2 linked regions of the Homo sapiens genome follow. The protein of the gene in region 2 interacts with the protein of the main gene of each other region in a pairwise test. Each region holds a gene or a part of one and is shown on either strand. Other genes may lie near its edges.

Region 1 (3,500 bases), on a different chromosome or scaffold from region 2:
TTTTAACCTCTGGGTGGTGGATCCCTGGGAGGCCACAAAGTCATTGCAAGAGGTAAACAAATCTGTATATGCAGCAAGTGCTTTTGGCAAGCTACTCTGAGTAAATAATATATCTTACATCATATGTGCTACTATTTTTCTAATTCTATACATACATTATAATGATAAAATGCTAATTTATTTAAAAGAGTTATTGAATTCATAGTAGCTTTTAAGTTTGTGTTTTTGTGTTTTATTAATGAGTGGACTTAAAACATATAATTATATTATGTGTGGGAAGGTTGGGACAGGAAATTTGGGATCTTAAGTAGAAATTCTTTTTAAAATATGAACCAGTGATCTATTTTTTATTCTCCAAAGCCTAGCCACACCAAGTAAAATTATGTATGTATTTGTAGGTTTCTTCGATTAATGTCTGCCCTGTCTTATTGGTCTGTCAGATATATAAGGACAGGAACCTCTATTTTTTTTTCATTCGTATATACCCAGTGCGTGGCACACGGCAGAATCTCAATAAATATTTGTTGAATGAAATAACAAACCAAGTGACTTGACCAAAGTCATCCAGTTAATTAGTGGTAAGATAGTTCCAAAACACACAGCTCCTAAGTTCCAAGCAGTTAACCTTTTCAATATACCACATTACTTCCCCTGATAGTAAGAGAGCATGTTTTAACAGTTAGCAAATTTAGGTTATACAATGCTGCCCAATCTGCCTATATACCCATGCATCTTAACCAGTATCTTAATCAGAATCAACTGTAGAGCTTTTTGAAAATACACATCCCTGAGACCTATCCTCTAGAGATTCTGATTCGGTAGGTCTAGAAGGGGGTCCAGGCATCTGTAGTTTGTAAAAGTTCCCTGGTGACTCTGATAAAACATCCTGGCTCAGAAACAGTTCTGTGCACCTATCGTTAAAATAATTGATAGTAGATGTATGTAGTTACTTATTCCTCAGAAGCCTATTTCTTTAGTTTTGAATAATTTCTTTCTAAAAATTATAGTTGCATATGCCAAATAATCCGTTTGGCCAGAAGAGCAAAACCTTTAGTTTTGCTTTTTTTTCAGTTTAAGCACAAAGTTATCAACCCTGTAAGGTCAAATTTTTCTGATGAGATTTCCAGTGTTTGCTTTTGTAAAGGACTGGAAATGTGGCAAGAATAAAATTTCTCATGGTATTTCCCACTTCCTTTTCCAGCCATCATTACTAAGGGAAATTTAGGCTTAGGGGGAGGGGTGAATCTAGGAGAAAAAAAATTTTAAGTATTTCTGTTCTTAGGAGGTTTTGAGCAGATATTTCGCTTCCTAGGAAAAGCTGAAGATGTTTTTCTCTGTTTCCACTTTGTGGTGAGGATGCACAAATCCTGAAGAGGGGAGAAGCTTCCTCCACCTCCACCCTCACCCCTACATCTTCTCTAGGGCAGGAGTCATCACAGCCCCTGGTTTAGATGCTTCCCTGGGTGGCCCTTTTGAAAGTATGTGGACCCTAAGAGACAGGAGACTTTGAGTGCATGGATGGGGGATAATTTGCTTTTGCAGAAGGACAGAAAATTTATCTCTAGGTTCTTCCTTTATTCGGCAGTTAGGAATTACATCCTCTGTATTGCACAGAAGAATCTACCATATTCAGAGCACTGAGTACATGGATTATATTCACTAAAGATTGGAGAGCCAAAAGTTTCTCTGCAAGAGTGACCTGATCTAGTAAGAATGTCAAAATTGTTACTATATTTGTACCCATGCTCTTCGGTTTAGAGGGCAGGTGCTTCCGTGTGTACATAGAAGCAGAGCTTGTTGGAGAAGAGGAGCTAAAAAGGAATTAGATTAGAATCCACCTCTGTACAATGGCACCATCTGGACTCAGTCTCCTTCATCTCTAACACTGTCCCCACTTTCTCTGCACCCCAAACTCATACTGGCTCCCAAAAGCTCATTGTTAAACTTTCGAGAATTTTGAGAGCCAGTTGTAAAACACAGCCATTATAAAAACTAAATCATATAAACTTACAATTAAACACATTATATGAAGAGCCAAGATAATAAATACTCAAAACTCTTCCTAATTATTTTGCTATGTTTCACTATTATCTATTCTCTTGAGGTTAGTTACATCTATTGTGGCTATATGGTGGAAATACTGTATAAAATGCTGTGCAACTGAGCTTCTCCTCCCAATTCTTCATTCAGTGATGTCATATTCAGAACTTGAAATTGACCATGATGGAAGTAATTACACCACAGAAATCAGCCCATGCTACAAAGCAGACTCCCCTCCCCTCACCCAAGAACTTGTTGCTAAACATTGACTAGCACATCACTGACCCTAAGGGATGCGGTGGTAAAATTAGCCTCTGCATTGGAGAGCCAAGCGGAATACCTCTGTGGTTCAGTTACATGCATATTCATAATGTATGCTTATGATTGCATATTTGTTTGTTTGCTTGCTTATTTATTTCTCATGCTCCTAGAACATAAGCTCTATGAAAGTAGAGACTTTGTTTGGCTTTTTCAGTGCTGTGATTTGAACCTAAAAATGTGCTGTGTCCTGCACATAGTATTAATAAATGAGTTAAATGAGTGAAAGAAATAAATGTCAGGCTGGTAGTGGTAGCTCGTGCCTGTAGTCCCAGCACTTTGGGTGGCCAAGGCAGGCAGATTGCTTAAGGGCAGGAGTTTGAGACTAGCCTGAGCAAAATGGTGAAACACTGCCTCTACAAAAAATACAAAAATTAGCCGGCCATGGTGGTGTGCATCTGTAGTCCCAGCTACTTGGGAGGCTGAGGTGGGAGGATCACATGAGCTTGGGAGGTCGAAGCTGCAGTGAGCTGAGATTGTACCACTGCACTCCACCCTGGGTGACACAGTGAGACCCTGTCTCAGAAAAAAACAAAAAGTAAAAAAAAAAAAAAAAAAAAGTCTACAATTTCTACTTTAAAAATACCTGAAGCCAGTGTTCATGTTGGAGCTCATTGATTCCTCATGAATTGTATCATTGTTCAGTGTTTAGAACAGTGCCTGGCACATGCTAAGTAGCATGTAGATTTTTATTAGGTAAAAATAAAATAAGTTATCTTCATAACAGCTAATTTTACAGATGAAGAAACTGAGTTACGATTAGATTAAGTAATATAGCTAAGGTCCCACAGCTAGTAAGTAGCTGGGTCAGGATCTAAACCCGGGATAATCTGGAGGCACTGCCCACCTTCTTTACCACTGTGCTATGCTGCCTCTTGCTAGTTACTCCACGTCACTGAGACTCCTCTTTTGTATGTGGCTCTAGAAAGAATTGAGATCTATTTGAGAACAAACTTTGGAGTCAGGAGAACTTGAGTTTGAATCTCAAATTTACCACTTTTTTCACTTACAAAATGGGGATGATTTCTCCTCCACTTTGTAGTTGTCACAACTACTAGAAGTAATATCTTGAAACTGCTTTGCACGTACATGATAGACACTCAATTACAAATGGTCAGCTATTGGCTGTGATTTCCTGTGGA
Region 2 (3,500 bases):
GGAGACAGCTCATATCTGTCCTACTGGCTGCCCCTTGGACGTGGCCCCAGCTAGTTCATGTGGTACTGGGGAAGGTCGGCAGCCCTGGTTTTGTTGTGTGGAAATGTGATTCCGCTGGTCAGCCGATGGAGCGGCATTACTGTCTGGCAGCTGGAAGTACCCAGCTATCAATTGATATTTCAAAAAGGGTGGCAGACAGGCCTCACGTAAGTGGCAGTTCTTGCAGATTGCTTGTGGATTCCTAGAGTATTGTGGGGCTTGTGGGCCATGTTTTGAATCAGAGGAAAAGAATGTTATAATTGGGGGTTGATGGCTGCTGTAGGCTTGAGAGAAGTGAGCTTGGATGAAGGCAACCACCCTGGCTTAGGTGGGTGGTTGGCAGAGTTACTTGGTATGCATTTGTACTTTAGCTGTAAGAGTTGAAAGCTAAATAACCCCCAAATTTATTCATTACAGACTTGGAATTATTTTTCTTCCTATTGTTGGGTTATAGTCATGTTAATTGTACATCCTTGATTTTCCCAGTCTGGTTTATAGTTTGCTGTTTTTAATAAAGGCAATTTGTTAAAAATACAATTAAATGCATTTTTAAAGCCATTGTAAATTGATACGCAAATTTACAAATGAGAAAATGTGTTCTTTGTGAGATTGTGCCTCATTTTTTGATTAGCGAGAACTGTGATCACGGTAGGTGGGTAACATTTTACATAGTGTGAACTTATGGCGCCTATATACATTGTTATAATTAATCTTTAGTGTCACATAGATAACGCAGTGGCTAAATCATCCTCTCAAATGATTCCAAATGAGATTGAATGTAGCCTTTCTGGCCCTAAAATCCTGACCAGTCAATTCTGGAAAGTTGTATTTTAGTGATCAGCCTGTGGAAAAAGACGAATACATAAATGTGTATGTATTGACTCAAATTTTTTTCTTTAAAACTATTCAGGTTAATTATAGAAAATGCCAAGTAGGAAATTTGCCGATGGTGAAGTGGTAAGAGGTCGATGGCCTGGGAGTTCACTTTATTATGAAGTAGAAATTCTGAGCCACGACAGCACCTCCCAGCTTTACACTGTGAAGTATAAAGATGGAACAGAGCTTGAATTGAAAGAGAATGATATTAAGGTAAGAGCTCCTTTGGTTTATCAGAGTGTGTTTACAGTAAGTGGGAAATAACTCTAAGTATGGTTTCTAAGCTCAGGATAGTCAGTTCAGCTCGGTTTGAAGGCAGAGGATTGAGCTCTTGCTTTGGGTCACATACTGTTTTTGGCTCTGGGAATGTATGAATGAGGCATAGTCCTTGTTCCCAAGAAGCTCACACTTACTGGGAAAGACAGCCATTTGCATCTGTTGGTCCCCTGGGTTTACTACGTTCTGTGTCTGGAGTTTGCTGTGGGTGGTGTTGAGTGTATCAAGGGTAGAGAAGAGCCCTGGGCTTCAGGGGAGGCTTTCAGAGGCAGTGACACCTAGCCAAGTGCTGAGAACAAACAGGAAAAACAGCAGTTGATGGGGCTGTTTCTGCAGAGAGGGCAGTATGCCAAAGTCAGGGGTCTGGGGGACACAGTCAGCCAAGTGCTGGAAGGGGGTGGTAGGGGAGGGCTAAGCAGGAGCCAGGCTGGGGGGGCTTTTATATTCCATGCCCAAGGGTTTGGGCTTCATCCTGAACACCAAGGATTTAATCAGGAGAGTGACATTAATTAGATTCGAGTCTAGCCCAGGGCTTTTCAACCTGTCTGGTGAGGGCCTGGGTTTTAAGATATCTGATCCGTAGTATACAAACATTTATATAAAATGCCATAAAAATGAGTTACTAGAAAAATAAAGACATACACAATAGACGACTCACAGTTTTACTATCAGATTCGATAGATATGAGATTACTTTGTCAAAATGCTATAAACATTTCCATACACCTATTTCTCAATTTTGGTACTTGCACAGATTAGTAACGAGCATTTCTAGGACCCATGGCTGAGGATGACACTTCGAGTGCTCTAGACCAGGAATAAAGCACAGAAAGTAAATATTTTAGACTTTATGGGAGCGGCTCCAGGCAGTATGGAAGGGAGCAGACATGGCAGTGTTCCAGTACAACTTTATGGACAGTGAAATTTGAATTTTGGATAATTTTCACACTTCAGGAAATACTGTTCTTTTGATTTTGTTTGTAATCATTTAAGAATGTAAAAGCCATTCTTAGTAGGAAGGCCACACAAAAATTGGGGTGAGGGACTTGGCCTGGGGCGTAATTTGTCTACATCCCTAGAAGCAACATAAGGAGATTCGGAGTAGGTGGGGACACAGTGAAACAGTTCCCAGTCATCCAAGCTCATGTTTTATTTTCAAGATCTGCTTATGTGTTTTGTTCAGAGTGAAACTGTGGTACTGTTTTTTTTTTTTTGGTCTGTGTGCTTATTTATTTTGTCCTGTCGTCTCAGTTTTAATCCATGTTAATTATTACCCTTCTTGCATATGGTGTTGGAAATAAGTACAGCTAATTGGTTTAGATACATTCGTTTCATGGAAATACCTTCAAAGAACAGGAATGGAAAGGCTGCATTTGTCTCATGAAAGATGGATCATTATGAAAGCATTTTCCATTGGCTTCATCTGATCCATTCTCAGATCCTAACATTTCCCGTGCTGATTTTAGAGTTAATGGTAGCAGTTCCTGCCTTTGTTATCCTCTTCTAGTGTGGGTCTGTCTGTATGTGTTATGATTTGTGGTAAAGCTCTTTGCCTTCTTCCCCCTTTCTAGCCTTTAACTTCCTTTAGGCAAAGGAAAGGTGGCTCAACTTCCAGTTCCCCTTCCAGACGCCGAGGGAGTCGATCAAGGTCACGCTCCCGATCCCCTGGTCGACCACCTAAAAGTGCCCGCCGATCTGCTTCTGCTTCCCACCAGGCCGACATTAAGGAAGCAAGGAGGGAAGTGGAAGTTAAATTGACTCCGCTGATTCTGGTACTTGTGTTTATCCTTATACAGCCTTTTGTCTTCCGCTTTATGTATATATTTACTCAAGTTACTTGCAGTTAATAATATTAAAATGTCACTGAAACATCAAATCTAAGTTGATGACTTTGGGAGTTTTCATATAAAACAAATGTTTGGAATAGAAAGTTTTAAATATCAATGGAAAAGAATGTCCTTCAGTTACCAGAAATGCTATTTAATATTTTAGTTTTTAAAAAAGCAGCGTTCAAATTTGAAATAGATGTAGCTTGTAGATTGAACTGCGTAAGGTTTTTACAGTGTATAAAAGTTCATATCATGTATGAAATGGTAAGACAAACCTGTATTACGGAAACATTCTTACTCTTAGCATCATTATACTTTATCACTTTACCTATTCAAAGATGATTTTAGTGGAATTACTTTCAAGATGTAAGCTTTGAAATATCAGGGTGCATGGAGCCTGTAGATCTTGTACAAATAGTATTTTAGATAGTAGACCAAAGACAAAGTATGTTAAGTAAAAAGAATAAAAGTAATCTTCTAT

What was found.
Region 1: the proteins of LBR (region 2) and CALD1 interact in a two-hybrid assay, tested with the Homo sapiens proteins (one large-scale study listed by BioGRID).

The regions. Positions count from the first base shown.
Region 1 is NC_000007.14:134,786,134-134,789,633, forward strand, and holds part of CALD1 (caldesmon), read left to right. Parts: intron 1-3,500. UniProt on the Homo sapiens protein: Actin- and myosin-binding protein implicated in the regulation of actomyosin interactions in smooth muscle and nonmuscle cells (could act as a bridge between myosin and actin filaments).
Region 2 is NC_000001.11:225,421,539-225,425,038, reverse strand, and holds part of LBR (delta(14)-sterol reductase LBR), read left to right. Parts: intron 1-949; 5' UTR 950-963; coding exon 964-1,128; intron 1,129-2,761; coding exon 2,762-2,962; intron 2,963-3,500. UniProt on the Homo sapiens protein: Catalyzes the reduction of the C14-unsaturated bond of lanosterol, as part of the metabolic pathway leading to cholesterol biosynthesis.